2 separate regions of the Homo sapiens genome follow, and region 1 is linked to region 2. Evidence: fine-mapped expression QTL. Tissue or cell type: aorta. Region 2 holds a variant in brackets; the other region holds the start of a gene. All regions are shown on one strand. Distances are between the middles of the regions.

Evidence for each region.
Region 1: GAS6-AS1 starts here. The variant in region 2 is fine-mapped to the expression of GAS6-AS1 in aorta (GTEx, PIP above 0.99). The same link has a PIP of 0.9 or more in sigmoid colon, subcutaneous fat, thyroid, tibial artery, tibial nerve and transverse colon.

What each region holds. Positions count from the first base shown.
Region 1 is chr13:113,814,173-113,816,911 of GRCh38, reverse strand. It overlaps GAS6-AS1 (GAS6 antisense RNA 1), which reads right to left and starts at 1,302. Exons shown (of 5, transcript NR_044995.2): 1 at 1,221-1,302. It overlaps TMEM255B (transmembrane protein 255B), which reads right to left. Exons shown (of 9, transcript NM_182614.4): 9 at 1-2,739. RefSeq lists enhancers at 879-998, 1,059-1,298, 1,349-1,418.
Region 2 is chr13:113,839,412-113,842,420 of GRCh38, reverse strand. It overlaps GAS6 (growth arrest specific 6), which reads left to right. Exons shown (of 15, transcript NM_000820.4): 5 at 2,571-2,693. It overlaps GAS6-AS1 (GAS6 antisense RNA 1), which reads right to left. Exons shown (of 5, transcript NR_044995.2): 5 at 1-52. Among named protein-coding and RNA genes, the nearest start is that of GAS6, 23 kb to the left of the region's middle. RefSeq lists an enhancer at 2,414-2,990. The variant T/G (reference allele first, on the strand shown) is at 1,269.

The sequences.
Region 1 (2,739 bases), 25 kb after region 2:
GAAGCTCCAGCCACAGCCCCTGCCTGCAAAGCAAGAAGGGTCACCTGCCCCAGGGTCAAGGACTCCACGAGGGGAGAGGGGGAGGGTCCGCTCCATGGTGCCCTTGTTTCAAGCACGTTTTCTGCTTACTGAATTCCATCAGTTAAAAGGTCTAGGAAACAGAAAAGGAAGTGGCGCGTGTCGCCGTCTGAGGATCTGCTGACGGGCCCCGGCCTCGTGGAATCCTCTTCTGCCTCTGTGGGTCTCCAGAGTTTCGGAGGCATCTCTGCTCCCACCGCGGGGTCTGGTGGCCACGGGGTCCCCAAGTCTGCAGGAGGAGCTGCTCTGTGTGGCGAGGGTGATGACCATGGCTCTTGTTCACTGAGCAGGGCCGGTGGCCAGCACTGTCCAAGTCACCAGTGCAGCCCCATAAGGCCATCTTCACAACATCCTTGGGGCCCGTTTCTCCCACTCCCGTTTCCATGGAGATGTGATTCACACAGCAATAGCCACGCCTCATGAGTGCAGAGCATGGGTCGGTGGTCAGTCCATCCACGGGGCCGTCCACCCATCACTGCCATCTGGCTCCCGGACACTCCTCTTCCCACAAGAACTCGTGTCCCTGACCAGTGACTGCACCTCTCCCCATCCAGAACACGCTTAGAACACACTTGCCTCCCCGAAAAGAACTCGTATCCCTGACCAGTGACTGCACCTCTCCCCATCCAGAACACGCTGCAAACACGCTTGCCTCCCCGAAAAGAACTCGTGTCCCTGACCAGTAACTGCACCTCTCCCCATCCAGAACACGCTGCAAACACGCTTGCCTCCCCGAAAAGAACCCGTGTCCCTGAGCAGTGACTGCATCTCTCCCCATACAGAACACGCTGCGAACACGCTTGCCTCCCCGAAAAGAACCCGTGTCCCTGAGCAGTGACTGCACCTCCTTTCCCAGTCGGCTTCTGTCTGTGGACACGCCTTCTCTGGACACTGCATATAAACAGAACACAGTCTTCATGTCTGGTGTCCTTCCCTGAGCACTGTGTGTTACAGCCTCAGCACCCGTTAGAGCTTCCTTCCTCTCCGTGGCCGGGTGACCCGCGTGTGGATGGGCCACGTCCTCTCCCTCTCTGTGGCTGGGTGAGACCCGCGTGTGGATGGACCACTGTAGTATTCTGTTTTCACACTGCTAATAAGGACATACCCGAGACTGGGAAAAAAAGAGGTTTAACGGGACTTACAATTGCACATGGTTGGGGAGGCCTCAGAATCACGGTGGGAGGCAAAAGGCACTTCTTACACGGCAGGAGCAAGAGAAAATGAGGAAGAAGCAAAAGCGGAAATCCTGATCAACCAGTCAGATCTCGTGAGACTTACTCACTATCACGAGAATAGCACGGGAAAGACCAGCCACCATGATTCAATTACCTCCCGCTGGGTCCCTCCCACAACGCGCAGGAATTCTGGGAAATACAATTCAAGTTGAGATTTGGGTGGGGACACAGCAAAACCATATCACCCATGTCCCTTCCTCTCTCCGTGGCCGGTGACCCCATGTGGACGGACCGTCACCCATGTCCCTTCCTCTCTCCGTGGCCGGTGACCCCACGTGGACGGACCGTCACCCATGTCCCTTCCTCTCTCCGTGGCCGGTGACCCCACGTGGACGGACCGTCACCCATGTCCCTTCCTCTCTTTGTGGCCGTTGGCCCCATGTGGACGGACTGTGTCCCTCCCCCACTCAGTAGTTGCCTCTGCTTGGGAGCTCTTGTGAGCAGTGCTGCTGTGTGAAATGTAGAAACTGAGGCAGGAGGAGACTCCCTGTAACCCAAGGTCCCAAGCTAATAAGGTGGGGCCAGTCTCAACGGACCCCTGCCCAGGGCAATGCTCTGACCCTGCCCTCCTCAGTCACAACCTGCAGCTACACTAGGCCCCCACCTCTGAGCTGCAGGAGAAGCCTGTCTCCTGTGCTGTCCCAGTGAGGCAGGGAGTGCAGGTGGGGCCACAGCACCCCAAACCCCCCAGCACCCCCTGCCCCGGGGCCACAGCACCCCCAAACCCCCCAGCACCCCCTGCCCCACCATCCCCTCCACCCCATCTCCCGCGGCCTCCAGGGTCTCACTGACCTCGGCTGTGCATGGGAACCAAGTGAGGGCGGGATTGGGAGCCCATCCCTGCAGAGGAGGCTGGGATCAGAAGGCCCCAGCGGAGCCCAGAGAGGGGGTTCATCAGACCGTGACTCAGGCTGGCAGAGCTTGGTGGCCCCAGACAGGATCCGTCCACATGAGACAGGTGCACCTCGAGAGCAGCCGCCGCCCACACTGCAGGCCAGGCATTGGCCGGAGCCCTGCGCCAGGTGGGAGCTGCCCTGGGACCTGGGGGACCCTCCAGCCACCACGAACCTTGAGTCAAATTGTTCACATTCTTTGTGGCTGGGATAAAGGATAAGGACATTTTTGTGGCAAGAACAAAACTGTTGACCTTGGAGTTGAATATTTTTGAACAGCTTTTGACTCTAGACAAGATTAAAAGTCGGGAAAGATCGATGTTGTGTTTGGGGGAAGCTGGTGAGTGCAGCCTCGGGGAAGCACTCTGATGCCCCCACACCGCACCCTGCGACCGAGGGCTGACATGAGGGGAAGGAGGGTTATTCCTGTGACTTTGCTGGCCAGAGCTCCAGGGGGCATAGACTCCCTGCCCAGACCTGCAGTTCAGCTTCTCTGCTGTTCGCACCCCTAGGACACCAAGAGGTGCTGGTGC
Region 2 (3,009 bases):
TCCTGGTCCTCGTTTCCTCGTAACTCCGAAGGCCAGCCCCAGCCCCTGTGTGCTTCAGAGTAGAAAGCGTTTATAGTGACCTGCTGAAAATAGCATCTTAGAAACACTTCGAGACGCGAGCTCCGTCCACACCCACAAGTGTTCTGTTGTCAGTCATTTGTGCAAAACAAGCAAACGGAGGTGTAGGGAGGAAACTGTGGGGTGTACTGAGGAAACTGAGGCTTATAGAGGAAACTGTGAGGCAGACGGAGGAAACTGAGGTGTATGGAGGAAACTGAAGCATACAGAGGAAATTGAGGCGTATGGAGGAAACTGGGGCGTATGGAGGAAACTGGGGCGTATGGAGGAAACTGGGGCGTACAAAGGAAATTGAGGCGTATGGAGGAAACTGGGGCGTATGGAGGAAACTGAGGCATATGGAGGAAACTGTGGGGCGTACAGAGAAAATTGAGGCGTATGGAGGAAACTGTGGGGTGTATGGAAGAAACTGGGGGGCGTATGGAGGAAATTGAGGCATATGGAGGAAACTGTGGGGTGTATGGAGGAAACTGGGCATATGGAGGAAACTGTGGGGCGTATGGAAGAAACTGTGGGGCGTATGGAGGAAACTGTGGGGCGTATGGAGGAAACTGTGGGGCGTATGGAGGAAACTGGGGGGCGTATGGAGGAAACTGGGCATATGGAGGAAACTGTGGGGTGTATGGAGGAAACTGGGCATATGGAGGAAACTGTGGGGTGTATGGAAGAAACTGGGGGGCGTATGGAGGAAATTGAGGCATATGGAGGAAACTGTGGGGTGTATGGAGGAAACTGGGCATATGGAGGAAACTGTGGGGCGTATGGAGGAAACTGTGGGGTGTATGGAGGAAACCGGGGCGTATGGAGGAAACTGGGGCATACGGAGGAAACTGTGGGGCGTATGGAGGAAATTGAGGCATATGGAGGAAACTGGGGCATACGGAGGAAACGCGGGTGTACGGAGCAAACTGTGAGGCATACGGAGGAAACGCTGTGAGGCATACGGCGAAGCGTCGCAGAAAGAAGCCAGTGTGGTTGGGCAGCTTCCCCAAGAAGCCTGGGACTCGTAGCCAGGGCCTCTGGTGAGCGCGGTGCCTGGACCCGCCTAGGAGGACAGGGGCTGTGTCTGTGCCGGCCACAGGCAGTGACTGTAAGCCCTGGATGAGCTGGAGGAACTCAGCTTTGTGAACCACAGACCCGCCCGCCGCTCACCCTGGCACCGGGCACCCCTGACCCCGGCCAGGTGGGGA[T/G]GGAAGCGGCTCCTGCACTGACAGCCGAGCCCAGACCCTCTGGTGGAAACGCCACATTCTACAGACCTGGTGGGAAACGTCACCTTGGGAGCCTCAGGAACAGAAGCGACACGCTGGCAGTGAGAGCCCATGCACTGAAGACTCGACGTGCCCCCACCAGGGCTGACCCCTTAGGACGATGCTGGCCCAGTGCCCTAGGGCCCTGCTGGCCCGGCCTGCACTTTTCCCAGGGACTGGTCCTTATTGAACTTGTGTGGAATCAATGGACCGGAGCCCTCTCTCAGCCAGCAGGGGGGCCCTACCCAGGGTTCCCCACGGAGCCCTGTGTGGCTAAGCTGAGCGTGGCTGAGTCCTCATGTGGGGCTGAGCTGAGTGTGGACCGCGCCCCTGAGCACTGCCATGCTCAGCCCCGAGCTGCTTCTGCTCTGCCAGCAGCCATGAAAGGATTCTTTGAGCTCCGGGTGTAATTGTCGTTCTTTCTGCCAACTTCCCGGGGCTCAGGCTTGCGTAACTGCACTGTCGGGGGCTTCCCTGCCTGCCTCTGGGACGTGGTTTGGGTCCGTGTCCTGGAAGCGTGTTTGTGAGCAGCTCCTCGTATGAATGTGTTTGTGAGCAGCTTCTCGGATGGGGGACTGCTTGGGAAGCAGCTGCACTGGCACGGGTTCCCACCCTCAGGCCCTCACCCGTTCCCCTGACCTCTGGCCCTGCAGGAGCTGAGCCCAGGTGACCACCCTGAGAAAGGGCAGAACACACCTGGCCTAAAGCCATCAAGACACGTGGAGAGGGGGCAGCTAAGCAGAAAGAGGGGGGCTTCCTGGAGGACCCCTCTGGCAGTGCAGCCTGGGCCTGGGGTCCTCCCCGCCACACCCAGCAGGGAGAGTTCACCAGAGATGGGCTAGGGGCTGGCCAGGGAAGGCAGAATGTTCCGAGTCTGCCTGGAAGCCCCCAGGTCAGCTGGGGGTTCTGTGTGCCTACTCCCTGGGAGGTCTGAGCTCCCAGGCCTCACGCCAGGCAGTTCCTGCTCCTTTGCCCTCAGCCCTTCCCACCTTGCGTCCAGGCCTGCTGGCACTCCCTCCCAGTTGATCTGAGTTTTCCTGGAGCCGGCCCCAGGGCCCGCCAGCCTATTCTGTCAGCCCTAGGCCAGCACAGAGGGCTCGGGTGCCCAGGGGCTGCCTCAGCCTGCGCCCCTCAGAGCTCCTCCGGGCTGGACCCGAGACCCCACAGCCGCCCCGATCTCAGCTGCGTTGGGCGCGCAGGGGTGGGGCAGCTGAACATGATTTTCCACTTTGTGTCCCCAATCAGACCTGCCTGACCAGTGCACGCCCAACCCCTGCGATAGGAAGGGGACCCAAGCCTGCCAGGACCTCATGGGCAACTTCTTCTGCCTGTGTAAAGCTGGCTGGGGGGGCCGGCTCTGCGACAAAGGTACGTGAGGCTGAAGACAAAGGCGGGGTCTCCCTCCATCTCCGACCCTGCCCTGATCCCCGCTCCTCACTCCCACTCCGGGGCACGGCCATCCTCAGGCTGCTCTCCGACAGCCCCAAGGAGGCTGCAGCCCTGAGGTATCCTGGAGCCCCAGGAGAATTGGGAGGAGCTGCAGTCTCCTTTCTGGGAGCAGGGCTGGAAGGAAAGGAAACACCAAGTGATGCCTCAGCACCCACTGATTGAAGGGCGGGGGGGGAAATTTCACCTCTGACCGTCCTTGAGTGCAGACCTGTGGTGTCAGTGGCACCCACTGATT